Linked DNA regions of Homo sapiens. The protein of the gene in region 1 interacts with the protein of each later gene in a pairwise test. Each region holds a gene or a part of one and is shown in the gene's direction. Other genes may lie near its edges.

Region 1 (3,009 bases):
TGACTGATGACAAGGGGCCCATAGGTGAGGGGAACAGTCGGAAGAAACGGACCTTGTAGGCTTTCCTTTTGTTGTCTGCCCTTCTGCATTGGTTTGACTATCCTTGACTCACGTCAATGCCAGATCTGAAGCGGTTCTCAGAATCCAGGATCCGAACCAGCAAGCTCACAACATTTGTGAACTTCCCCCTAAGAGACCTGGACTTAAGAGAATTTGCCTCAGAAAACACCAGTGAGTATCTTTGAGTAGGCAGGGCAGAATGAAGACGCAGGTGTGCAAGGCCGGAGGGAGGGCAGGAGGAAGGGGAGCTGCCAGCACCAGCTACTGAGAGACCCAGAAGGAGAGGTTGGAGGGGGGAAGTCGGGGCAGGGGGGCCTCGGGGGCTTGACGGCTGCCTCCTCCTCAGACCATGCTGTTTACAACCTGTACGCTGTGTCCAATCACTCCGGAACCACCATGGGTGGCCACTATACAGCCTACTGTCGCAGTCCAGGGACAGGAGAATGGCACACTTTCAACGACTCCAGGTGAGAGCCAGGGCAGGGCCGGAGCCCCTGGCTGTAGCCACCCACTCTCCCCCCACTCCTCCACCCTCCCCCCAAACCCACCCCCCTCCCACCCCCCGCACGGCTTACACCGAGAATGGATGGCAAAGTTTAAGGCCACGAAGCCGCTGCCCGTGGGGAGGCTCCCTGAAAGGCAGGCCGGCCGGCCTCGGGGGCACAGAAAGAAGCCGGCGGGGGGTCTCCCGGTCCTGCCCGCTCCGGGCTGACTCCCCGCTCTCTCCGCAGCGTCACTCCCATGTCCTCCAGCCAAGTGCGCACCAGCGACGCCTACCTGCTCTTCTACGAACTGGCCAGCCCGCCCTCCCGAATGTAGCGCCAGGAGCCACGTCCCTTCTCCCTTCCCCGTGGTGGCCCCGCTCCCTAAATTTTTTAAAAAGACAAAAACAAAACAACAACAACAACACACAAACCTGACAAGAGAAAAACAAACCTGAAGCTGCCGAGCAGGAGTGGATGCAGCCTGATCAGGGTCTGGAGCAAGGAGCCGGGCTTTCCTGAGCTGTGGCCCGGCAGGGAAGATCGCCTGGACGTGGAGCCAGCATCGCCCCGTGCCCTCGGCGTTTGCATTTGTAAACTTGTGGTCTTCCTATGTGTCAGAAACAACTGTGTCTTGGGGGGGAAGACCCTCGCTGCGCCGCTTCCCGCCGCAGCGCCCGCGCCTCCGAGGGGACAGCGCCCTCTGGAGCTCGCTGGGAGCATCACCGCCTGGACGCCCGCGCCGCGGAGGAGCCGGCGCCCATCTCCACCCGCACGGCTCGCCGGTCCAGAGCCATGAGCCAAGAGCCCTCTTCACGCTGCTAACTCCAGGGGACAGACGAAGGGACATCTTTGGAAAACGCTGGTTTTGGTTTTTAAAAAGCCCAACTTTTTTTTTTTAATTTCCATAACTAAAGTGTTCAGACTGGAGTGCTCTCCTTCAGGCCTCTTCATAGCTGGGACGTTGCACTGGTCCTTTTATTGCTTTTCCAAGTACAACTTTCTAATGCTAGCCCTCCGTGGTGCTAGGTGGGCGTTGGCCAGGCCCCAAGCACAGCCACAGTAGACCTGGGATCTAAAACAAGTTTCTGTTTTGGGGGTTTGGGTTTTTTTTTTTTTTTTTTAATGTTTTGAATGGAATTTAGTTGCCTCCAAGAATTGTGCCTTATAGCATTTGGGGACCAGGGGGTAACTGCCCCTCCTGAAATATCCCTCAGCCTCTTCCCTTTTCCCCAGTGCTCTGTTCAAACCCGCCTGGGAAAGGGATCCTGCCCTTAGCCCTGGCTCGTTGTGCATTGCAGTGAGGCAAAGAAGAAAGCAGGTAGATTCCTTCCGACAGGGCATCAAGTTCTTCCCGCCCACGTCCTCTAGCCCACCCCTGGTCTGCTCCCCAGCTGTTTGAAGGATAGCACAAGCCCCTCGTCCCTAGAGCTTCTCTCCCTTTTATTTATTCTCTTAACATCCCTTTCCCCCTGGCCTTCCTGCCCCCGCCCCCTTCTCAGAGCCTCCTAGACAATAGGCCCTTTGGACCGAGTTTCTCAGGGATGCCCAGGCCACCCCTCAGCTCTTCTTAGCGCTGGTCTCCAGTCCTGCCCTGGGAGCTGGAGCCTGGGTATTTGGGGACATCTTGCCTCAGTTGTATGGTTCTTTCCTGTGGGCTCAATTTTGCCCTACATAGTTGGATAAAACTCTGTGCTGTCCTGGAGAGTAAAGCTGTTCACCCACACAGCTGGGCCCGGCTTGTGCCCCGTGGAGCCTGGCACATTCCAGGCTCCTAGGAGGAGGCATCAGAGAAAGACACCCTGAGTTTTACTGGCCTGACACCCTTCTCCAGAGAAGACCTGTGAACCTGAGCCCAAGGGCAAGTGTACACTTGTTTACTGTGTAAGCAAGAGTAGAAGAATGTCTAATGTACAGTGGAACCTTGTACAGAATAAATAATAGCTTTGAGAAATCAGTTGGCAGATGTTGGAATCTTGATTTGGGAGTGTTTGAATCTAGGAAGGGCTCCTAGTATATTAGGGGCCATCTATTTCATTGTTTCAACCAGTTTGTAAATTCCAAGTTTCTGGAAAAAGTTACCCACTTTTTAGTTTGAACATTTAAGTTTAATTTTTTAAAAACTGAAACAATACATATTTTGGACACTATATTCTTCATCTGGATTCACCAATTGTTTACAAACACATTTAAATATACAGCCATCCCCCAGTATACACAGGGAGATTGGTTCCAAGATACACACATACCAAAATCTGCACCATATTCAAGTCCCAAGGTCACCCCTGCAGAACCTGCGTATATGAAAATCAGCCTTCTATATATGTGGGTTTTGCATCTTACAAATGCAGTATTTTCTATCCTTATTTGGTTGAAAAAATCCACGTGAAAGTGGACCCACACAGTTCAAGCCCGCATTGTTCAAAGGTCAACTGTACTTTATTCTGTCTGCCGAAACATTTTCAGG
Region 2 (7,033 bases), on another chromosome or scaffold:
TCACTCTGTTGATAGTGTCCTTTGTTATACAAAAGTTTTTAATTTTGATAAAGTCTGACTTACCTATTTTTTCTTTTATTGCCTGTGCTTTTGGTGTTATATCCAAGAAGTCATTGCCAAATTTAATGTCATGACATTTTCTCCTCTATTTTCTTCTGAGAGTTTTATAGTTTTAGCTCTCACATTTAGGTCTTTGGGGTTTTTTGTTTTTTGTTTTGACACAAGATCTTGCTGTATTGCCCAGGCTGCAGTGTGGTGGTATAGTCATGGCTCACTGTGGCCTTGGCCTCCTGGGCTCAAGTGATCTGCCCGCCTCAGCCTCCCTAGTAGCTGGGACCACAGGCGTGTGCCACTGTGCCCAGCTAATTTTGGTTACTTGTTGTAGAGACAGGGTTTCCCTATGTTGCCCAGGCTGGTCTTGAACTCCTGGGCTCGAGCACTCCTCCTACCTTGGCCTCCCAAAGTGCTGGGATTACACCACGCCTGGCCCTCTTTGATCTATTTTGAGTTAATTTTTGTATATGGTATAAGGTAAGGATCCAACTCCATTCTTTTGCCTGTGGATATCCAGTTTTCTCAGCACCATTTGTTGAAAAGATTATCCTTTCCCACATTAAATGATCTTGGCAACCTTGTCAAAAATCATTTAACCATATATGCGAGGGTTTATTTCTGGACTCTGTATTCCATTCCATTGCTCTTTATGTCTGTTTTAATGTCAGTACCACACTGCTTTGATTGCTGTAGCTTTTTTTTTTTTAATTTTTTTTTTATTTGAGATGGAGTCTTGCTCTGCTGCCCAGGCGGGAGTGCAGTGGTGCAATCTCAGCTCACTGCGACCTCTGCCTCTCGGGTTCAAGCGATTCTCCTGCCTCAGCCTCCTGAGTAGCTGGGATTACAGGCGCCTGCCATGAGGCCCGGCTAATTTTTGTATTTTTAGTAGAGATGGGGTTTCGTCACGTTGGCCAGGGTGGCCTCAAACTTCTGACCTCAGGTGATCCGCCTGCCTCGGCCTCCCAAAGTGCTGGGATTACAGGCATGAGCCACCGCGCCTGGCCAATTGCTGTAGCTTTTTAGTGAGTTTTGAAATCAGGAAGTGTGAGACCTTCAGTCTTTCAAGACTGTTTTAGCTATGTGGTGTCCCTTGATATGGATTTTTCTATTTCTTTAGAAAATGTCATTGGGATTTTGTTAGGCATTGCATTGAATCTGTAGATCACTTTGGGTAGTACTGACACCTTATCAATATTAAATCTTCTAATCCATGAACATGGAATGTCTTTCCATTTATTGGTGTCATCTTTAATTTCTTTCACCAATATCTTGTAGTTTTTAGCATACAATATTTAACCTTTGTTAAGTTTATTCCTCGGTACTTTATTCTTTTTGATGCTATTGTAAATGGAATTATTTTCTTAATTTCCTTTTTGGATTGTTTATTGTTAGTTGTAGAAATGTAACCGATTTTTGTGTGTTCATTTTGTATCCTTCAACTTTGCTGAATTTATTAGTTCTAATTGCCCTGCTTTTAAAATCAAATTAATTCCAACATTCAAATCTTAATTAAATTCACATAAAACTCTAGACTTCCTTTTTGTCATAAAATATTGGAAGATGTGGCACCTCTGAGCTGACATTCCCACATGGCACCCACCGCTTGAGGTCTAGTGGCAGCTCCTGCCTTTGGTGGAGGTGACCATCCTTTAGCACGCTCCAGCCCCACCACCCTTTCTGTCTCTGCTTACCAACCTCATCCACAAGTTCTGCTCTGGCTGGCCCCTCATGCATTCAGCATTCTTCCTACAGGTACTTACTGAACACCTACTGTGTACCAGGCACTGTTCCAGGCACTGGGAGTACAGTGCTGAACACAACAGACAAAAATCCCTGCCTTCGCATATATCATCTCGTTTAATCCTCGAGACAGCTTCCATGAGGTAGCCTCATTATACAAATAAGGAAACTAAGAGACATAGAGAACTTAAGAGACTTGTCCAAGGTTACCCAGCAGGTAAGGGGATGTCTGGATTAGAACCTGGGCAGCCTGGCTTTAGAATTCGAATTGTCAGCTGCTATTACTGCCCATCAGTGGCGGAAGGACCCAGAGGTGAAGACTTGGCAACAGAGGCAGGGTGGCGTGGACAGGGGACAGATAGGCCTGGCCGGTGGTCATACAGCCAGGATCAGGCCTTCTGTGGGCTCCACAGGGTGTGCTCCCAGGGCCGCCCCGCTGGCCTCTGGGCTGAGTTTCCTTGAGGTTGTCTGGATCCCAGACCCTCTGGCCTTCCCAGCTCAGCAGCTTCAGCCTGGGAGAGCCCGCTTTTCCTCAGCAGACAGCTGATGATCGTTGACTGGGCTTGGTGGGAGGTAAGGAGGTAACCAGCAGGTTTTCTTTCTGTGATGGTAAGAGGCCGCCTTGGAAGCAGACAGCTGAGAAAACACAAAGACCTGGGCTGGCTGGCCCCACCCTTGGTCGAGCCGCTTCTGCCTGTGAAGTGTAAATGCAGGTGGTGTCAAGCCGGCAGACAGGCCCAGCTCCCTCTTCCCCTTGAGCAGGCAGGGTGACGCCCCCTGCAGCAGGCCCGTGATTCAGTTGCTCTGGCTGATGAGGAGCCTGGGCCCGGGAGGAGTGTCGCACAGCCCCAGCCTGGTCCGTCCTCAGCCCTGGATTGACGTCCATGCTGTCCTGGGACCGTTTCAGCCGCCTAGTGGGGAGTCTGCTTTCTCCTCCGTCCTGTGTCTTGGGCTCAGGCATGTGCCTGCTGCCCCTTTGTGGCCACAAGTATGTATCGGGCCCAGGGTGGCACTCGGGACCCTCCCCTGTTGGGCTTAGAGACATGGACGGCCCTTGCTGGCTGGAAGCTGCGGTGAGTGTGTGAAGGGCCCTCAGTCTTCCCTGAGGAAGGCCCTGCCTGCTCTTGGCTCTCACTGCTCCCAGGCCATCTTCCATCCGCTTTCCCCAGGTGCCTCCGTTTCTCTCTGACTTCTTGCCTGTTTTCCCTAACTCTGAGAGATTGCCTGCCTTCAAGTGCAGGAGAAAGCAGACATCTTCCCTACAAGCCCGAGACCTAGCCCCCAGTAGAGCTGGCCAACCACCTGCCACGGAGCAGGCCACTGGTGCCTTGGCCAGAGTGCTCGTGGTGCCAGTCTGCTGCGTCTCAGTCACATTCCCCCTGCTTTGCTGCCCTCAAGAAGCCAGAGATGACCTAGTGTCTGACACCTCTGAACAAAGGGGCCTTTAGAGCCCCTTCCTCAACTCCCTCACCATCCCCCATGCTCCCCAGCCTGCCCTGGTTGCGGTTGCGGCCACTTCCTTTTGGGTGCCCCTCTGAGATTCTGGACAGAGCCCAGGAGCCCCCAGGTTCCCATTGTGATGCAAGGACAGAACAGAACCCTGGGCCGCAGGCAGGTGGCTGGTGGGTATCCCGCCTCCCACCCCCAGCAAACACTGGCAAACCCCACTCTCCCTGCATCAGGGTCTGAGTGCCTGGCAGGGGCGGCAGTGGAGATGATCAAGGTTAGTGCGCCCAGCCCCATGCTGAGGCAGCAGCCTTTCTGGGGAGGGAGGGGGCGTGGAAGGAGACTTCAACCTTTTGAAGAGGAAGTCAGTTCACTTATGTCAGGGTAGGGAGAGTAGGAATTACGTATTCTTTGAGACTGAAAAATTACTGGCCGGGCGCAGGGGCTCACAACGGTAATCCCAGCACTTTGGGAGGCTGAGGCGGGAAGACTGCTTGAGGCCAGGAATTCAAGGCCAGCTTGGGCAAAATGGCAAGACCCTTCTATACATTAAAAAAAAAAAAAAAATTAGCCGGGCGTGATGGTATGTGCTTGTAGTCCCAGCTACTCGGGAGGCTGAGATGGGAGGATGGCTTGAGTCCAGGAGGTCTAGGCTGCAGTGAGCCTAGATCGAGGCACTGCACTCCAGCCTGGGTGACAGAGTGAGACCCTGTCTCAAAAAGAAAAAAAAAAATTACTGAAAAGCATAAAGATTTTGTCAACTATAATTCCACAGCCCAGAGACCCCCACTTTTTAGTGCTGTACACTTAATGGTTTTTCAGATGTTTCTTGGACTTAATATGTTGATGAGCCTTTCCCCATGACATTTAAAACTCCTGATAAACATGAATGTAATGATGACAGAATAGTCTATGTACTATATATACACATTGTAATTCACCTGCCCACTCCTCTAAGGGTGCTTATTCAGGGTATTCTCAATTTTAGGACGAAAGCAGAAAGGCTGCCTCATGCAAACTGTCCCTACTCCCACCCAGGGGCCAAAGGACTTGAGCCGTCCTCTCATCAGGCACTGAGCGGGCAGAGAAGTGGCACAAGCTCTGCCTCCCTGCCTGGCCCGTGGCCCAGCGTGTTGCTAGGAAGGAATGTGTTTGTGCAGGTGGCGGCAGAGCTGACCTCCAGGGGTCTGGCCCTTGGGTCACCTGCTTGTCCCCCAGGAGGCCTGGCTGGGCCCCCAGCCTTTCACCTGGGTCTTGCATCTTGGAATCCCCCTGCCCCACCAAGAGCAGGCAGTGCCAGCTCCCTGGCCTTTTCCTCAGAGGTGGGGGTGGATCCCTTGGTCCACTTCCTCCCTGACCACTCAGAGCTGGCCTAGCTGCTGTGAGTCAGCCGTTCTCTCCCACCCTGGGAGACAGGGACCTCCGAGGCCGAACACTACCTTGTTTGATGACACAGACTTGTTTGATGACATCTCAACCATGTAAAGTAGGGAGATTTTACACACACCCCCAAAATCCAAATGTCCGGCCTGTCTTAACTATGGCTGATGCATGCTGCTGAGTGCTAAGGGGGCGGACTCTAAGCCTCTATTTTTATTTTATTTTTTTTAGACAGCCTCGCTCTGTCACCCTGGGGTACAGTGATGCTATCATAGCTTACTGCAGCTTCAAACTCCTGGGCTCAGGTGATCTCCCACCTAACCCCCCGGATTACAGCTGGGATTATAAGCGTGCACTGGTGCACTCGGCTGAGTTTTGAAACTTTTTGTAGAGATGGGGTCTTGCTGTGTTGCTCAGGCTGGCCTAGGCCTCTCTTGAAAGATGAGAATTTTGGCGATGCTGGGTGTGCGTTCTCACCTCCTGTCGTCCGAGGAGAGTACGTGGTGGCCGCCTTCTTAAAGGGTTCTTGGGAGCCAAGCCCTGCACAGCCCCTCACCTGCCTTACCTGGCTGTCCCCTGTAATCAGTGGACGTTGTTGCCTATCATTTAGTAATGAGAACCCAGCTGTGTAAACCTCCTAAACCACCACACAGGAATCTGGCTCTTAGCGCACCTTTCCCGAGGTGGGGGTTGCTCACCACAGGACGTTCTGCAAGAAAAGTACTAAACATGCCCTGACGGAAGCTGGAGCCAAAGTCTGTGTCTGTGAATTGTTTCCTGAGAGAGGTTTCTGGGGGTGGGCTGATGTGAGACCAGGGTCTAGGGCCTTGGGAGGGGATGGGTGGCTGGAGGACAGCGCCGGGGAAGGGTTGCTCCCCTGGGATCTGCCCTCATGGGACTGGCACCATGATGGTGTCCCCTCTTCTGGGGTCCGGATAAGCTAGGTAACCGTGGCTTCCTCATGGGGTGCACACCCCCTTCCCCCTATAAGAGCCTTGGCTGCCACAGCTTTCCTGCAAGGCAGATTGGGAGCAGGGGTGGACACAGGTTCTGAGTGTGCCCTGACCACTGGCAGACCCATCTCCACAGGCTGACTTGCCAGAGACCACCCCAAGTGGAAAATTCTGGGGGCTGGGCCAGGGTGGATCTAGGGCTCGGAGGACCTGGAGTATGTACCATCTGGGGGCCCTTTTAAAGAGAGAGAACATAAAATTACATAGACACAGGCAGGTACAGGACTTTGGGAGGGGCTCGTGTAGTGAGGGGTCCTGAGGGTGGGCTGCCGTTGGGTGGGCCCAGGGGGCATCGGGGTGGCCTTGGTTGCACTTGCCCTCTGGGCTTTCCTGAAGAGCTGGGGTTGGCTCTGTCCTGTGGAGGGAGAGGGTGCGGGAGGCTGTCAGCACCAGCCCAGGTTTCTCTCACCTGAAGTCCCAGGTGTGATGGGATGCTTGAACATAGGGGAACCTAAGGCCACAGCCTTAGAAGAAGCCACAGCCACATCAGTCATCCCTGGTGCTGGGCAGGAGGCCTGGGTGTAGGCTGGAGCTGAGGACTGAGGCTCACCTTGCTCCTGACTCTGTGCCCACAGGTAGAACACCTGAAGGAGAAGCTCATTAGCCAGGCCCAGGAAGTGAGCCGACTGCGATCTGAGCTGGTGAGGCCACAAGGCTGTCCTGGGGTAGCGCAGGGCCTGGCCTGCCTTGTGCAGATGGGCCCTGCCAGGGGCAGGGGTGCGACCCTCTCTCTCCTGAGCCCGCATATCCCACCCTGTCTCAGAAACACACCGAGAGCCTTATCCCCACCTCCTAGTACCCTCAGAGGCCTTGTGGCTCCAGGGGGTGGGAGGTTCCTTCTCTGTTGCTGACATTAAACGGGAGTGTGAACCCTGGTATAAATATGTCTCTCCTTGTGACTTTCACACTCAGAATAGGGTGGGGGCAGCAGGGAGAGCAGGCTCTGGGTCACCACCCTTCTCAACTCTGCCCTCCACTGTCTTTCTCTTGGTTTCTCTCTTGAGCTTGTTCCCTCCTCTCTTGCCCTTGCCTTTTTCTTTTTCTTTTTCTCCTTCCCTCTGCCTTTCTCCACACCTCTCCTCTCTTCCCTGCCCTTGTGCCATCTCCGCGGGCCTCTCTTCTTTCCCCCGTCATCTGCCCTCGCCACATGCGCCCCCTCGGCCCTGGCTCTCTGCAGGGGGGCACCGACTTGGAGAAGCACCGGGACCTGCTGATGGTGGAGAATGAGCGACTGAGGCAGGAGATGCGGCGCTGTGAGGCCGAGCTGCAAGAGCTGCGCACAAAGCCAGCAGGTCCCTGCCCAGGTTGTGAGCACAGCCAGGTGAGCAGAATGGCCGTGGTCCCCATGCTGGTCCTGGAGGGCCACCCCAGCTCCTCACAGTGAGCCTGTCCCTTGCACT
Region 3 (7,799 bases), about 120 Mb from region 1:
GTTCCTGCCATTCTCCTGCCTCAGCCTCCCCAGTAGCTGGGACTACAGGTGCCCACCACCACGCCTGGCTAATTTTTTGTATTTTTAGTAGAGACGGGGTTTCACCGTGTTAGCCAGGATGGTCTTGATCTCCTGACCTCGTCATCCGCCTGCCTCAGCCTCCCAAAGTGCTGGGGTTACAGGTGTAAGCCACTGCGCCCGGCTTTCTGTCCAACCTCCCTGTACAGCTTTGATCTTGTTCTGGATCTAGGATAGGTTTTGGGGTTGGGAGCTGCGGGTAGTGAAGGGAGGTGGCTGTTGGGGGTGCCAGGGATTCCAGGGGCAGAACGGGCATCCCTGGCTCCCTCCGCTCCATTTAACCCTCCTCACTGCAGGTGCTGCGAGAGATGTGCAAGCAGGGATACCGGGATGGCCTGCGCTTTCTGCAGCGGAACGGTGCGCGGACCCGGGCGGGAGAGGGCGGGGTGGGCTCGGCTCTGCTACCCCCTGCGGGCCGCGGCCGCGCTGATGAACTGAGAATCCCTTCTCTCCCCAACCCCAGGCCTCCTGAACCGGCCCAACCCCTTGCTGGCGTTGCCCCCCGCCCGCCCCCACGGCCCAGAGGACAAGGACCAGGCAGTGGAGAGCGCCCAAGCGGAGGATTACTCGCAGCTGCCCGGAGAAGATCACATCCTGGAGCACCTGCCCGCCCGGCTCAATGAGGGTGCGCACCTGGGGGACGGGAGGGGAGGAGGGGAGGCAGGAGGGAAAGAGAGAGAGGAGAGGACGGTGAGCAGGGGAGGGAAGCCGAGCGGGTCCTGGGCCCCGCTGCCTCCACTGGCCGCCGACCTCCCGCCCACCCGCAGCCCTGCTGGAGGCCTGCGTGGAGCCCACGGACCTGCTGACCACCCTCTCCAACATGCTGCCTGTGCGTCTGGCCACGGCCATGATGGTGCCCTACACGCTGCCGCTGGAGAGCGCTCTGTCCTTCACCATCCGGTGTGAGGGCTGGGGGGTCGGGAGAGGGGCCCAGGGGACGGACTTTGGGATCATCCGCGAGTGATGGTTACCAGGGAAGGTGGGGTGGGGTGAGCAGTGCCAAGTCAGGGCACAGACAGGGCCCGGCGGGTGGGCATGTGGGTCTGGCCAAGTCCCTGAACGCGCCGCTCGCCCTGTCCCCAGCTTGCTGGAGTGGCTGCCCGACGTTCCCGAGGACATCCGGTGGATGAAGGAGCAGACGGGCAGCATCTGCCAGTACCTGGTGATGCGCGCCAAGAGGAAGCTGGGCAGGCACCTGCCCTCCAGGTGAGCCGCCGACCGCGCGTCCACCCGGGGCCCGCGGTGCTAGCGCCGGGAGCTGAAGCCCTCCCTGCCGCATCCCTGCCCCGCAGGCTGCCGGAGCAGGTGGAGCTGCGCCGCGTCCAGTCGCTGCCGTCCGTGCCGCTGTCCTGCGCCGCCTACAGAGAGGCACTGCCCGGCTGGATGCGCAACAACCTCTCGCTGGGGGACGCGCTGGCCAAGTGGGAGGAGTGCCAGCGCCAGCTGCTGCTCGGCCTCTTCTGCACCAACGTGGCCTTCCCGCCCGAAGCTCTGCGCATGCGCGCACCCGCCGACCCGGCTCCCGCCCCCGCGGACCCAGCATCCCCGCAGCACCAGCTGGCCGGGCCTGCCCCCTTGCTGAGCACCCCTGCTCCCGAGGCCCGGCCCGTGATCGGGGCCCTGGGGCTGTGAGACCCCGACCCTCTCGAGGAACCCTGCCTGAGACGCCTCCATTACCACTGCGCAGTGAGATGAGGGGACTCACAGTTGCCAAGAGGGGTCTTTGCCGTGGGCCCCCTCGCCAGCCACTCACCAGCTGCATGCACTGAGAGGGGAGGTTTCCACACCCCTCCCCTGGGCCGCTGAGGCCCCGCGCACCTGTGCCTTAATCTTCCCTCCCCTGTGCTGCCCGAGCACCTCCCCCGCCCCTTTACTCCTGAGAACTTTGCAGCTGCCCTTCCCTCCCCGTTTTTCATGGCCTGCTGAAATATGTGTGTGAAGAATTATTTATTTTCGCCAAAGCACATGTAATAAATGCTGCAGCCCAGCCTCTGCCCACTTTGTGTGTATGTGACCGCCTGCTTACTTGCAGTGAGAGCCTGGTGGCCAGGGTCTGGCCCTACCTTGGCTGACCAGCCTCTCCACAGCTGCAGGCCAGGTCTCCCAGCGTCGCACTCCTGGGCCTGGCATTTGGAACCTGCCAGGCTGGCCTGGGAACACCCCCCTACAGGCACATATGAACGTACTGCATTCCTGCCGACCCCCCTGTCTAGGATGCATCCACACCCCCCCCAATTTTGCCCAGCAGCCTCCTGGCTGACCCTTGGCCACAGCCTTCTGAGGGCCAATGGAAATATTTGGGACCAAGATTCTTGGTAAATAAAAACGAAAATGTTTGCAAAAGGTGTCGCCTGCCCCTCCCCTCACACGGTGACACAGTGGGGTGTGTGACTGTTTTGGGGCTTGGCCAGCTGTGGGGGCTGAGGTTCCTGAAACCAAGCACAGGGGACCTGGGAAAGCTGGGCCCCTGCTCCACTTGGGCGTTTGGCCCAAAGTTCTCTGTCCCCCCACCCTCACAAGCCTCTCTGGCCTGGTGCACATACCTTCTTGTTCCCCTGCCCAGCCTCCTGCCAGTACACAGGGCAGGGCTGGGATATGGAGGCAGGTGAGGTCCTAGCTGAAGGGGACTCAGCCCTGTGCTGGGGAAGTGGTTTCCTGAGGGCATCCTCTTCATGGCAGGGAGGCCATGAGGGGAGAAGGCCAGCCCTCCTTGGCAACCAAAAAGGCCCCATGGCCTGAGGGTGCTGGAGCCAGCCCCCACCTGCTCCTCCCAGAAGGCGTGGGGTGGCTGTGGTGGCAGCCCCCTGCCAACAATAACGGTTGGTTCTGGGATCTGGGACTGGGCGAGCCGGCCAGGCAGGTCCCTGATGTGCCTGTGCCAGAGGCCACCCCCCTTGGTCTCAAGGTCCTGTCCTATAAGCCCAGCCTTTTGTGGTTCAGCTGGGTCGCACGCTGGATCCCAGGCCCCTTCCTTGAAAAGCAGAGGCCTTGTACCCCCCAGGGTTGCCGGGCGGGACAGTGATTCCAGCCCTTCAGGTGGGTGCAGGGGCCAGGCTGGGGCTGGGGCTGGGGAGGGCTCCTCGGTCTGGGGTGGAATTTTCTCCCCCCACAGGAGGGTTTCACTCGGGCCTCAAGCAGCTCCTCCTTCCAATCCTCCCCCAAGGGGAGCCCCAGTCAGGGCTGGGCCCCAGAAGGAGAGCCAGGAGGGGCTACTGAGGTGGGACCTGCCTGAGTCCCCAGCTCGTTCACCCATACATATACACTGAATACTGCTAAGTTAAACATTTTCTAGCATTACACGTTCATTGTTTTGTTTTGAGATGGAGTTTCGTTCTTGTTGCCCAGTGCAATGGCACAATCTCGGCTCACTGCAAACTCTGCCTCCCGAGTTCAAGTGATTCTCCTGGCTCAGCCTCCCAAAGTGCTGGGATTACAGGCGCCCACCACCACACCTGGCTAATTTTTTGTATTTTTAGTAGAGACGGGGTTTCGCCATGTTGGGCAGGCTGGTCTCGAACTCCTGACCTCAGGTGATCTGCCCCTGTCTCAGCCCCCCAAAGTGCTGGGATTACAGGCGCCCGGCCTACATGTTTATTGTTTAAAAACCGGGAAAGTATAGAGAAGAAAGTAAAGGCTCCCCACCCCTAGAGATAACCGCTGAAAGTATTTGGTCTGTTTCCTGCCCGGCTTTTTCCTACACACACTTTTTGGCGCCTTAAGTCGGGCTCCCCCCGGACAGGAGGGGCCCCTCCCAGGCGCTGGTGTCTGCGCCCGCCCCCCGCAGCCTTGTCCCTGCTCCGGGGGGTCCCTGGGTCTCTGGGGCATATCGTTGCTTCACTGCTCGCTCGAGCCTCCAGGGATCGGGCCGCCGGGGCAGCGCAGAGAGGCGGGGACAGGCGACAGCGGCGCAGAGTGGCTCCTCCCGGGGCCGGCCCAAGCGGGGGTCTCGGTGCCTGCGAAGCGGCAGGGGTCGCTCGGGGCCCAGTGCCCTCTACGTCCCGTCCGGGTCCCAGCTGGGGCGGGGCGCGCCCAGTGTTTCCGGGAGGAGCGGCCCGGGCGCGCGGCAGGTGCGGCGGCGCAACTCGCGGGTAGGCGACCGCTGGTCCCGCCGCTGAGGCCCCTCCACTGCCGCCCGCCCGGCACCCCCTCCGGGCCGCCGTGGCCCGCGCCAAACCTGAGCGTCTCGGTCGGGAACTCCGGTTACCCCCTCGGGGCGCAAGGCGGCAGGGGTAAGGGCGGGGTTGTCCCCCAGAGTTTCGGGGAGCACAGGAGGCTGGCCGCCCCACCCCACCAGCCCATCCTCCCACCTCCCTGGGGCCCTGCTGCCGCGCGGCTTCCGGCTGGGGTGGACCTCAGGTCTAGCCGGCAAGCCGGAGGGCGGGCGAGACAACAACGTGGCCTGGAGGCAATGGCCCTGGCCTCTCGTGTCCCCTTCTCTCACCCGCCCAGACTTGCCCTCTTTGGAGGTCGCCCGGGCTAAGGAACATGGAAGGACGCTGGGTGGAGAGTGAGGGGAGAGGATCCCAGCTCCCCGGTGGGGGAAGGCGGGTGTTGGTGGGGAGCAGCTTTGGGAAATCCGGGATCAGGACATTGTGTGAAGGACAGGTGGCTCTGGTTAGGGGGCGGGGCGTCCCTGCAAGGAGGTGGGAAGGGAGGCCCCAGGGAGTTCTGAAACGGGGAAGGGCCTCAGTGTTGTGGGGCAAGGGTGTTAGGTCTCGAATCTGGAAGTGTTCCTGAGTGGGGCGTCAGAGGCGAAGGGCTCTGCAGGCTGGGACCTTGCCCCTGCACTCTGTGGGCTCAGTTGTGGGGAGGGAGGGGCCGGTGGGCAGGAGGGAGAAGTCTGCCCTGCCTGCCAGCTGTCATGAGGCTGGGCCACACAGGCCCAGGCCAGGGGCTAAGGACTTGGTCAGGACTGGCTGAGCCCTCACTTGGGATCAGATCTCCAGTTGCAGAGTGTGAGGGGCTCCTCCCTCACTGACCCCAAGCCTGCTCCTCTCAGCTTTCAGGACCCCACCTTCCTTATCACCAGGTCTTCTCCACTGGCCCCTGAGATTGCCATCACCTCCAGCTCCTCCTCTCCTGAAGTTGGCAGCCCCTCCTGGGTTCCAGCCTCCTGAGATGCCAGACCCACTGGGGCAGTACCCACAGGCCCTGAGCCTACATCAACCACCCCAGTGACACCCCAAGCCTGCAGCATTTTCCACCCCCAGCCCCCTGGTCCCACCTTGCCTTCCGCCCACCTTCCCACCTGCTGCAGGGAGGGCCCTCGGCTGAGCCTTCAGACACACTTGCACCCCATCCGCTCCCCTCCTGAATTTCTTCTGACCCTCCCTTGGCTTCACAGCACCTGAAGGCCAGGCTGAGGCCCCCTGCTCTCATGGCCAGCCCTGGAAAGCCTGGGGCTGATGAGGCCCAGGAGGAGGAGGGGGAACTCGAGGGGGGCTCTGCAGGGCCGCGGGCTGCAATACTGGAGCAGGCTGAGGAGCTGTTTCTGCTGTGTGACAAGGAGGCTAAGGGCTTCATCACCAAGCACGACCTGCAGGTGAGTCCCCCACCCCAAGAGACTGCTTCGGCCCTGGGTTGACCGCAGCGGCTCATCTCTGCTCTCCTTCCCCGACCAGGGTCTCCAGAGCGACCTGCCCCTCACGCCAGAGCAGCTGGAGGCTGTGTTTGAAAGTCTGGACCGGGCTCACACTGGCTTCCTCACCGCCAGGGAGTTCTGCCTGGGCCTGGGTGAGCCTGTGGCCTGCCTATCCCCCACTGCCCAGAGCTGGAGGCCTGATCAGGAGGCCTGGCACTTGTGGCGCCCTGAGGGCTGCCGGTGCCTCTCGTCCTCCTCCCTCCAGGGCCCGTGCTTTGTCTGCACGCACTCGCGCCTGGGGGCTCCTAGCTGCGGTGGAGTGTGTGGAGCTGACCTTCCTGGCCCCCAGCTCCTCTCCTGTGCTAAGCTCCGGTAGGGCTGGGAGCTGGCCTGTCACCTCTTGTTTCCAGGCCAATAGGACCAGAATAAGGAAGGAAAACAGGAAACTGGGCCCTGAGAGAGGGCAGGATACTCGTTGGGAGGGTGAACGGGGACACAGCCACGGTGGCGACCCACAGCCCTGGTAATCGCTCGCTCCATGCCCGCAGGGATGTTTGTGGGGGTGGCGTCAGCCCAGGGAGCGAACCCCTGCAGGACTCCCGAGGAGACCTTTGAGTCGGGCGGGCTCGACGTGCAGGGCACGGCGGGCTCTCTGGATGAGGAGGAGGAAGAGGAGGAGCGATTCCACACTGTGCTGGAGCAGCTGGGGGTGGCCCCGGTCCTGGGCAAGTGAGTCGGCGCTGGCCCCGCTCCCACTGCCCGCTCTGCTGTTTCTCTGCCTGCATGCTGTCTGCCCTTGTCACCCGAGTGCTGGTTCTGCACAGGGTCTCTAGGCCGGGTCAGGCCCAGCCTAGCGTCAGCTGCGATTCCCTGGGAGGGACCCGGCATGATTTCCCGCAGAATTTGCATTTCATGAGGCAGCAGCCAGGGCTGCAGGGAGGAGGGGCAGCGCCGGGCGCGGGGCCACATACCGGCACTGCCCAGGGTACACACACCTCACCGACCACGCACGCCGGGCAGGGGCGAAAGCGCTCACGGGAGGGATGCCCTGCACGCAGCAAGTGCTCCTGTCCTGCCCAGGGGCGAAGAAGTCTCCTAAGGGTTTGCTGCTGGCGGAGGGAAGCCTGCTTCCCGCTTCTGCCAGCTCCAGCCTCAGTTCCCGCCCGCCCTCCAGGCAGCGGGCTGTGAGGACGCTCTGGGCCAGGCTGCAGCGCGAGCGCCCCGAGCTGCTGGGCTCTTTCGAGGATGTTCTGATACGCGCGTCGGCCTGCCTGGAGGAGGCGGCCCGGGAGCGCGACGGCCTGGAGCAGGCGCTGCGGAGGTGAGGGCCGGGGTGGGGTATGGGGGCCAATGGAGGGCCTCAGGGCAGCAGCAGAGGCGGTGCCAGGGGGCTGTAGCGCTGGCAAGTTCTCATCCGGGGTCGCCCGGTCCCCCGAAGGCGCGAGAGCGAGCACGAGAGGGAGGTGCGCGCTCTGTACGAGGAGACGGAGCAGCTTCGGGAGCAGAGCCGGCGCCCGCCGAGTCAGGTGGGCCTCGGGCCCCGCCCCTCCCGCCAGGCCCAATCCCACCTCGCTGGCCTCCCTGGCTCCGCCTTCTCTGAATTAATCCCTCCCCGACGGCCCCACCTCCGCGGGTCCAGGCTGCCCTCAGCCCGAGGAGATCCCACTGGGCCTCACGTATCACCCCCGTCCGGTCTTCTCCACCCGACCCCGCTCCGCCCGGGCCCACTCCCAGCCCCTGGCCCTCCGTGTACCTCTTTTGCATGGCCGAGCGGCCGGCGGAGGCTCAGTGGTCCTCCGTGCGTCCCAGAACTTCGCCCGCGGGGAGCGGAGAAGCCGTCTGGAGCTGGAGCTGCAGAGCCGCGAGCAGGACCTGGAACGCGCGGGCCTGCGGCAGCGGGAGGTGAGCACCCGGCCCCTGCCCTGTCCCCACGGTCACCCGTGCACTCTCCCCCTGTGCCTTAGCGTCCCCGGGTTGTCGGGAGCCTGGGGCACGCGCAGCACCCCGGGGAAGAGGGGGCGTTCCTCGCCGGTCTCCATCCTTCCACCCTCCAGTTAGAGCAGCAGCTGCACGCCCAGGCTGCGGAGCACCTGGAGGCACAGGCCCAGAACTCCCAGCTGTGGCGGGCGCACGAGGCGCT
Region 4 (7,058 bases), about 15 Mb from region 1:
GACTATCATAACTGAAACCATCAGTTATGTGGATTTTTTTCTTTTTTTTTTTTGCTACATTTTTAGAAAGAGGCAAATTACAAAAGGTATTGTGGATTTATTAAAAAAATAACTTTGGGGTTATTTACTTGGTTAGTATGAAATCAGTACCATCTCTTCTGTTTTCTGGGCATTTAGGCCATACAATTAGAATTGATTTCTGAGTGATAGCCTGGAGACTCTGCAGGAATCTCACTTATCAAAAAAAATTTAATTATATTCTTATATTGTACTTACTAAGGGAGAAAAGTAAGGGAGTATACTTCACAAAGAATTCCTCAAGAAAAGTTTTGATAACCTCAGTTACTTAGATTTACATACCTCAATAATTCAGATAACCCATTTCTCAACAGACTACATGATAGGGATTTACGGTATAACAACAGTTTATGTTTAGGGGTGTGTGTGTGTGTGTGTGTGTGTGTAATATATTTTATATATATATATATTTCCAATTACCTCCAAGTTCATTATACAGTCAGAAGAGGTTTTCATTTAAAATTCTGAGTTGGGACAATTATACATATGGTATTTGAATCACAAATCATGCTGGGTAAAATGAAAGAATCAAATGATGTATACACAGAAGTACTAAACACAGGAGGCTGTGTTTACCTTTACAGATTCCAGGCTGTTTTGCAACAGATATAAGGGGTGGATGGGTGGCTGGACTATGGAATCCAAGGGATCCCTGCCAACCCTGACATCCTGTGACCAATGAAATGATGACAGCTCATTGGCCAGACCTTGAGGCTTTTTGCTTTCCAGTGTCTGTTCTCAGTAAAAGGTAAAATGCTGAAAAACAAATAAATGTAAAGTGCCACCCAAAGTAAAAAAATTACAGTGAGATAATAAAACACATCACATAGAATTTAAATATGTTCAGTATGAAGGCAATGGTATAGAAAAAAAGATGTTAGTTTCTTTTCATGTGAACTCACAATTTTTGCTTTATGAAAAACAAAAGGAAGCTTATTCTACAAAAATAATTTCATTTGCTATTAAAAAAAACAAAAGCCCCAGTATAATCCTCCTCGCTATGGTTTTAAGAACAAATTGTACAAAGCTATTTGGGGAAAAAAGATAAAGGAAAACTGAATTAAAGTCTTACTGGTTTCTCAATCTGTTCTTTAGCAGAGTAGTTTGCATGTGACATCTCACATGATAATTGTTTCCAAACTCAGGGGAAAGCACTAGTAATCTCTGATAAACTTGTCAGGGTGCAAAGAACCATAACATAATATTATTGAGTCAAAGGGTCATTCATTCATCTGTAAAAATGGTGAAAATTACAATGCTAGATTTTTTTTCTTAAAATTAAAAAATAATCCTTATATGATGAAACACTGTCTTTCCAGTTGAAAGCTCTAAGTCAGGTCATCTTCCTTCTCACCTTTGTGTCTCCACTCTGGCGCACCCTGCATGGCTGACTCCTTGTCATCTTTCTAAACCCAGTTCTTTCAGGATGTCTTCTCTCCCCAACATCCCTCACCATCTTCTTCATCTCTTCTTCAGATATTATTAATTTCTCCTGAATACCACTACTGTGGTATTTTTTACCCTTCAATTTGTGTGTGTGCATGTGCTCTAATTTAGACTGTGAGCTCCTTTAAGAATACAGCCTATATTTAACATTATTCACGTCTGTTTCCCTAGAACTTAGCACATGCTTCACATACACTGGGCGTTCAGTCAACATTTCTAATATAAGCAAATATGAGTATAGAAACATTATGATAATTAGAGCAGTGAGCGAGACATAGTCTTCCATCTGAGACAAATACATGAGAAACAGGAGCCAAAAAATAATTATTTAGGCTGATGTGACTTCCTTCTCTCCATAATGGAATAATGGTGTAACAGTGCAGGCCTTCTAACAACCCTTCAAAGAAGGGGGTGAAACTAGGCAGAGGATATCGACTATCTTGGTTCATAAGTAGGTACACCTGGGAGTACCAAGCCAGGGAAACATGAGCTCTGCACAGTGCAAAACACTTTTTTTTTTTTTTTGAGATGGAGTCTCGCTCTGTCACCCAGGCTGGAGTGCACTGGCGCAATCTCGGCTTACTGCAAGCTCCACCTCCAAGGTTCATGCCATTCTCCTGCCTCAGCCTCCCGAGTAGCTGGGACTACAGGCGCCCACCACAACGCCTGGCTAATTTTTTGTATTTTTAGTAGAGACAGGGTTTCACCATGTTAGCCAGGATGGTCTCGATCTCCTGACCTCTTGATCCGCCCACCCTGGCCTCCCAAACTGCTGGGATTACAGGCATGAGCCACCGCGCCAGGCAGCAAAACACTTTATTAAACATAGAGAAAAATAACTGGCATGCAAGGATTTCTACCCAATCATCATTTGCCTTGAAGGACTTTTCACCATGACAGCCTTGTATGTGTGTGTGTGTAAGTGGGGGTGGGGGAGAGTAGGGAGAAGGTGGCTGTGCCCAAATGTCAGAGAGAGGCATATTGGCCTCTAGGGTGGCATCCTTAATGAATTTTCCTACAGAACTGATGTCAAATGGGTCACCTCAAAGGTTCATCTCACTCATTCATTCATTCCCCTTCAAGGCAATGGCCCATCTACCCTATATCCCATTTTAGAGACCCTCTGTGTTATCCACACATTCCACTTTTTTACACTCCCCACCTCCAAGGGGTATGCACACTCTGTCCATTTTACTCAAGAAACATGTTTATTCTCTACTGCTTTGGCTTTGGGCCTCCTGACTTTCCACACTCTAGCAACAGCTCCCTCTTTGAACCACTGGAAAAGCCTCCTGACTGGCCCTCCTGCCACATTATGTCCTCCATGTGTTGCAAGAAGCCTCTTCCTTAAGTCAATTTAAAAAAAAAAATCACAAACACCTGCTTCAAATCTTTTCCCTTTCCTTTCCTTCCTTACTTCTTTTTCTTTTTTTTTTTTTTTTTTTTTGGAGGAGGAATTCTTGCTAATTGATAATATTTAATATTTAAACTCCGTAGATTCACATATGACTTCATCAATTGGCTCAACTAATTTTTTTCCAGCTTCATATCCTGGTATTCAAAGTCATGTACAATTTTTTTATTGCACAAAATGTCTCATCTTTCTCTAGAAATAACAGCCCTTGCCATAAATTCCTGCTTTTGTAACATGAAACTGCTTTCCTTTGGAGTGAGACCACTTTGCACCTGGAAGATGCTCATCCTTCAACATCCAGCTTGTCTCCTCCTTAGGAAAATATCCTCTGTTCTGTTGGTGATACTAAAGGCAGTACCCTGAACATGTCTTTGTAAAAGATTTTGCCTTTAGTATTGTGATTACCCATTCACCTGTCTATCCCTTTCCAGAAATGTGAGCTCCTCAAGGGCAGGCTCCAAATCTGACTTTCCTACTATGCACATAGAATGGTACTTGCCATGTAAGAAACAAATCCTTACTGTTTGGGGAAAAAACAAAAGTACAAAGAATACAACTCTAAAATGAACAAAACAAATGATAATATGCTGTTTAGAAAGTGTTGAAAAACTAGGCATGGTGGCTCACACCTGTAATTCCAGCACTTTGGGAGGCCGAAGTGTGGGGGATTGCTTGAGCCCAGGAGTTGGAGGCCAGCCCGGACAACACAGTGAGACCCCAAATCTATTAAAAAAAAATACAACAATTAGCCGGGCATGGTAGACTGTGCCTGTAGTTCCAGCTTTTCAGGAGGCTGAGAGAGGAGGACTGCTTGAGCCTACGAGGTCGAGGCTACAGTGAGCTGTGATTATGCCACTGTACTCCAGCCTGGGTGACAGGATAAGATCCTGTCTCAAAAAAAAATGTGTTGAAATCATTTCTTTCATATCATGTGTTAAATAGGCTTTGAAGGGCTGGCCTTGAAACCTGACAGCTTTGAGCCATCGTGTATCCATGGGAGTAGGCATTCTAGGTTCCAAACAGCACACTTAGAAATGGACTTTGGAACACAACGTGCTACCTCAAGGCTCCACCTGGCCACACAGCAGGCACTGAGGCTGGGAGACAGCCCCCAGACAGATGAGTGTCCGCGCCTCTCTGAGAGGTGAATGAGCCCGGACGGTCCCTACCTACCAAGTCCTGAGGAGCAGCGGCACCAACGACGCAGGCCCGCCCCAGCCCGCCAGTGAGCCGCCCATGCCCTCTGCTAGCCCGGCCCGCCCGGGCCCCCGCCATGCTGATCACCGTGTACTGCGTGCGGAGGGACCTCTCCGAGGTCACCTTCTCTCTCCAGGTCAGCCCCGACTTTGAGCTCCGAAACTTCAAGGTCCTCTGCGAAGCGGAGTCCAGAGTCCCCGTCGAAGAGATCCAGATCATCCACATGGAGCGACTCCTCATCGAGGACCACTGTTCCCTGGGCTCCTACGGCCTCAAAGATGGCGATATCGTGGTTTTACTGCAGAAGGACAATGTGGGACCTCGGGCTCCAGGGCGTGCCCCGAACCAGCCTCGTGTAGACTTCAGTGGCATTGCGGTGCCTGGGACGTCCAGCTCCCGTCCACAGCACCCTGGACAGCAGCAGCAGCGCACACCCGCTGCCCAGCGGTCACAGGGCTTGGCGTCAGGAGAGAAGGTGGCCGGCCTGCAAGGTCTGGGCAGCCCCGCCCTGATCCGCAGCATGCTGCTCTCCAACCCCCACGATCTGTCCCTGCTCAAGGAACGCAACCCTCCCTTGGCGGAAGCCCTGCTCAGCGGAAGCCTTGAGACCTTTTCTCAGGTGCTGATGGAGCAGCAAAGGGAAAAGGCCTTGAGAGAGCAAGAGAGGCTTCGTCTCTACACAGCCGACCCACTGGATCGGGAAGCTCAGGCCAAAATAGAAGAGGAAATCCGGCAGCAAAACATTGAAGAAAACATGAATATAGCGATAGAAGAGGCCCCCGAGAGTTTTGGACAAGTGACGATGCTCTACATTAACTGCAAAGTGAATGGGCATCCTTTGAAGGCTTTTGTTGACTCGGGCGCCCAGATGACCATTATGAGCCAGGCTTGTGCCGAGCGATGTAACATCATGAGGCTGGTGGACCGACGGTGGGCTGGGGTTGCTAAAGGAGTGGGCACACAGAGAATTATTGGCCGTGTTCATCTAGCTCAGATTCAAATTGAAGGTGATTTCTTACAGTGCTCTTTCTCCATACTTGAGGATCAACCCATGGATATGCTTCTAGGCCTAGATATGCTCCGGAGACATCAATGTTCCATCGATTTGAAGAAAAATGTGCTGGTCATCGGCACCACTGGCACGCAGACTTATTTTCTTCCTGAGGGAGAGTTGCCCTTATGCTCTAGGATGGTAAGTGGGCAAGATGAGTCTTCGGACAAGGAAATTACACATTCAGTCATGGATTCAGGACGAAAAGAGCATTAAAGCACGTTATAAATATGTTACCACCTTGAGGGAGCCTCAGGTCCCCGGCAATTATAAGTTAAGAGCTTACTGGCAATGTAATCATTAAAAAACATCAGTAACAACTAAACCTGGCCTTGGGACTACGTTCTCAGATGGGTAACTAACGTCAATCCTGATTCCTTGGTCTTGGTCCCTCTTCCATTTCCCTTGTCCAGAGATCACTGAAAGGCATCCTGGGAAGGCTCTGGAGGCTCCAGCTGATTTCCAGATAATCCATGAAAAAGAAAACCAGCTTCTTCCTTTAGAGACACTATCCTATCAGATTACAGGTGGCTTATCCAAATCATTGCTATTTTGCAGAATTCCCTGGAAAAATGCTATGGCTGCAGACCTTACAAGGCATCCACATAAAACTATTTCACATCAGCACTAATAATTCTTTCTACTGAGAGAAATATGCCCATTTTCACAGGTTTTGTTTTCTTTGGGAAGGGTATTAGAAATGGTAGGTCAGTTACACTATGATGTTAACTAATACTTATACATGTCTGTTTGGGGCAGCATAAAGACCAATTTCCTCATATTTACACCTTCCCTTCCCCTGGATCCCCTGCAGTCACCCTGCAATCCACAGCTAAAGACTATTTTTGCCATATTTGAGAAAGTGGATTTATCTCCAAGGATGCTACATTAATTTTCTATTTCTCCTGCATTCAAAGAAACTCTGGCTATAAAACAAAGGCAATAAATTAGATTTTTTAAAAAAGAAATTATGGTACTTCTTGGGAGTCAAGTTGTACAGTGGTGGGAATGAGAGGTGGGGACAGGCAGTGGTCCAGGTTCTCTAATAGTCATTGCAACTAGATCATCTCTCTCTCTTTTTCAAAGTAAAAATCTGCTTTATACATTAAGCTGCTGCTACATCAGTATTGTTTGAACAAAGGTTTTCACTGTTAAAATAACATTTGAAAACTTTTGAATGAGAAGATCTCTAAGGCCTCATTCAGAATTATCCATTCTGACAATGTTAGTGTTTATTACAACTGACAGTGGGTAATGGAAGATCCTAGACTTAATTACAACCCATGGCTAAAGCACCTGAGAGAAAAGTTTCAGCTTCCTGAGGCCATCAGATGCAGGGGAAATGTTTCAGGACAATAATTTATCAAAACTAGTATTAAAACAGCGGATTCAAAATCAAGATGTGTATGTTTTGATTACACTTAATTACTTAGACAAATTAGTTCACCTACTTTACAACTGAGATTCCTCACCTAATAATTTTTTTTTTCCTGGGAGGGGTCACTTTTCAAGCACTAAAACCTCATTATCTTAAAGGATCTGGGATATCCTTTAAGTTATTCTATTTTCCCGACAAGATATAAAGCCACATAAAGCATTCCCAAAGGATACAGAAAAAAATAACTCTCCCTTATAATCTCCATATACTTTTTGTTTTGCTTCTTGGTAATACTAATCAACCTTTCTAAAGAGAGTCACCTCTTCCTTTCTAGCCACCATCAGTTCACCTCCCATTTTTCTTCTCTATAGGTGTTCCCATGCTCACATTTCCCAGTCTGGTCTACATTTGCACAAAGTTTTATACCCAGTAGAACTACTAAAAATGATCAAATGAACAGATTTCTTTCCTACTTTTGTTTGTAATTAAGAACT

Evidence for each region.
Region 2: the proteins of USP2 (region 1) and KIFC3 interact in binary tests that used the Homo sapiens proteins (3 or more experiments, as listed by UniProt).
Region 3: the proteins of USP2 (region 1) and CRACR2B interact in binary tests that used the Homo sapiens proteins (3 or more experiments, as listed by UniProt).
Region 4: the proteins of USP2 (region 1) and DDI1 interact in binary tests that used the Homo sapiens proteins (3 or more experiments, as listed by UniProt).

The regions. Positions count from the first base shown.
Region 1 is NC_000011.10:119,354,705-119,357,713, reverse strand, and holds the end of USP2 (ubiquitin carboxyl-terminal hydrolase 2), read left to right. Parts: intron 1-123; coding exon 124-231; intron 232-406; coding exon 407-527; intron 528-791; coding exon 792-879; 3' UTR 880-2,499; downstream 2,500-3,009. UniProt on the Homo sapiens protein: Hydrolase that deubiquitinates polyubiquitinated target proteins such as MDM2, MDM4 and CCND1. Isoform 1 and isoform 4 possess both ubiquitin-specific peptidase and isopeptidase activities.
Region 2 is NC_000016.10:57,771,464-57,778,496, reverse strand, and holds part of KIFC3 (kinesin-like protein KIFC3), read left to right. Parts: intron 1-1,242; exon of another isoform or gene 1,243-2,011; intron 2,012-3,418; exon of another isoform or gene 3,419-3,508; coding exon of another isoform or gene 3,509-3,517; intron 3,518-6,144; exon of another isoform or gene 6,145-6,208; coding exon 6,209-6,274; intron 6,275-6,810; coding exon 6,811-6,954; intron 6,955-7,033. UniProt on the Homo sapiens protein: Minus-end microtubule-dependent motor protein. Involved in apically targeted transport. Required for zonula adherens maintenance.
Region 3 is NC_000011.10:823,153-830,951, forward strand, and holds the start of CRACR2B (EF-hand calcium-binding domain-containing protein 4A), read left to right. Parts: upstream 1-4,766; 5' UTR 4,767-5,455; coding exon 5,456-5,620; intron 5,621-5,699; coding exon 5,700-5,811; coding exon of another isoform or gene 5,812-6,031; intron 6,032-6,207; coding exon 6,208-6,388; intron 6,389-6,815; coding exon of another isoform or gene 6,816-6,833; coding exon 6,834-6,980; intron 6,981-7,097; coding exon 7,098-7,185; coding exon of another isoform or gene 7,186-7,468; coding exon 7,469-7,561; intron 7,562-7,713; coding exon 7,714-7,799. Other genes in the region: PNPLA2 (patatin-like phospholipase domain-containing protein 2), read left to right, coding at 375-435, 542-703, 846-978, 1,162-1,284, 1,371-1,710. UniProt on the Homo sapiens protein: Plays a role in store-operated Ca(2+) entry (SOCE).
Region 4 is NC_000011.10:104,032,612-104,039,669, forward strand, and holds DDI1 (protein DDI1 homolog 1), read left to right. Parts: upstream 1-4,028; 5' UTR 4,029-4,211; coding exon 4,212-5,402; 3' UTR 5,403-6,585; downstream 6,586-7,058. UniProt on the Homo sapiens protein: Probable aspartic protease. Seems to act as a proteasomal shuttle which links the proteasome and replication fork proteins like RTF2. Required, with DDI2, for cellular survival following replication stress.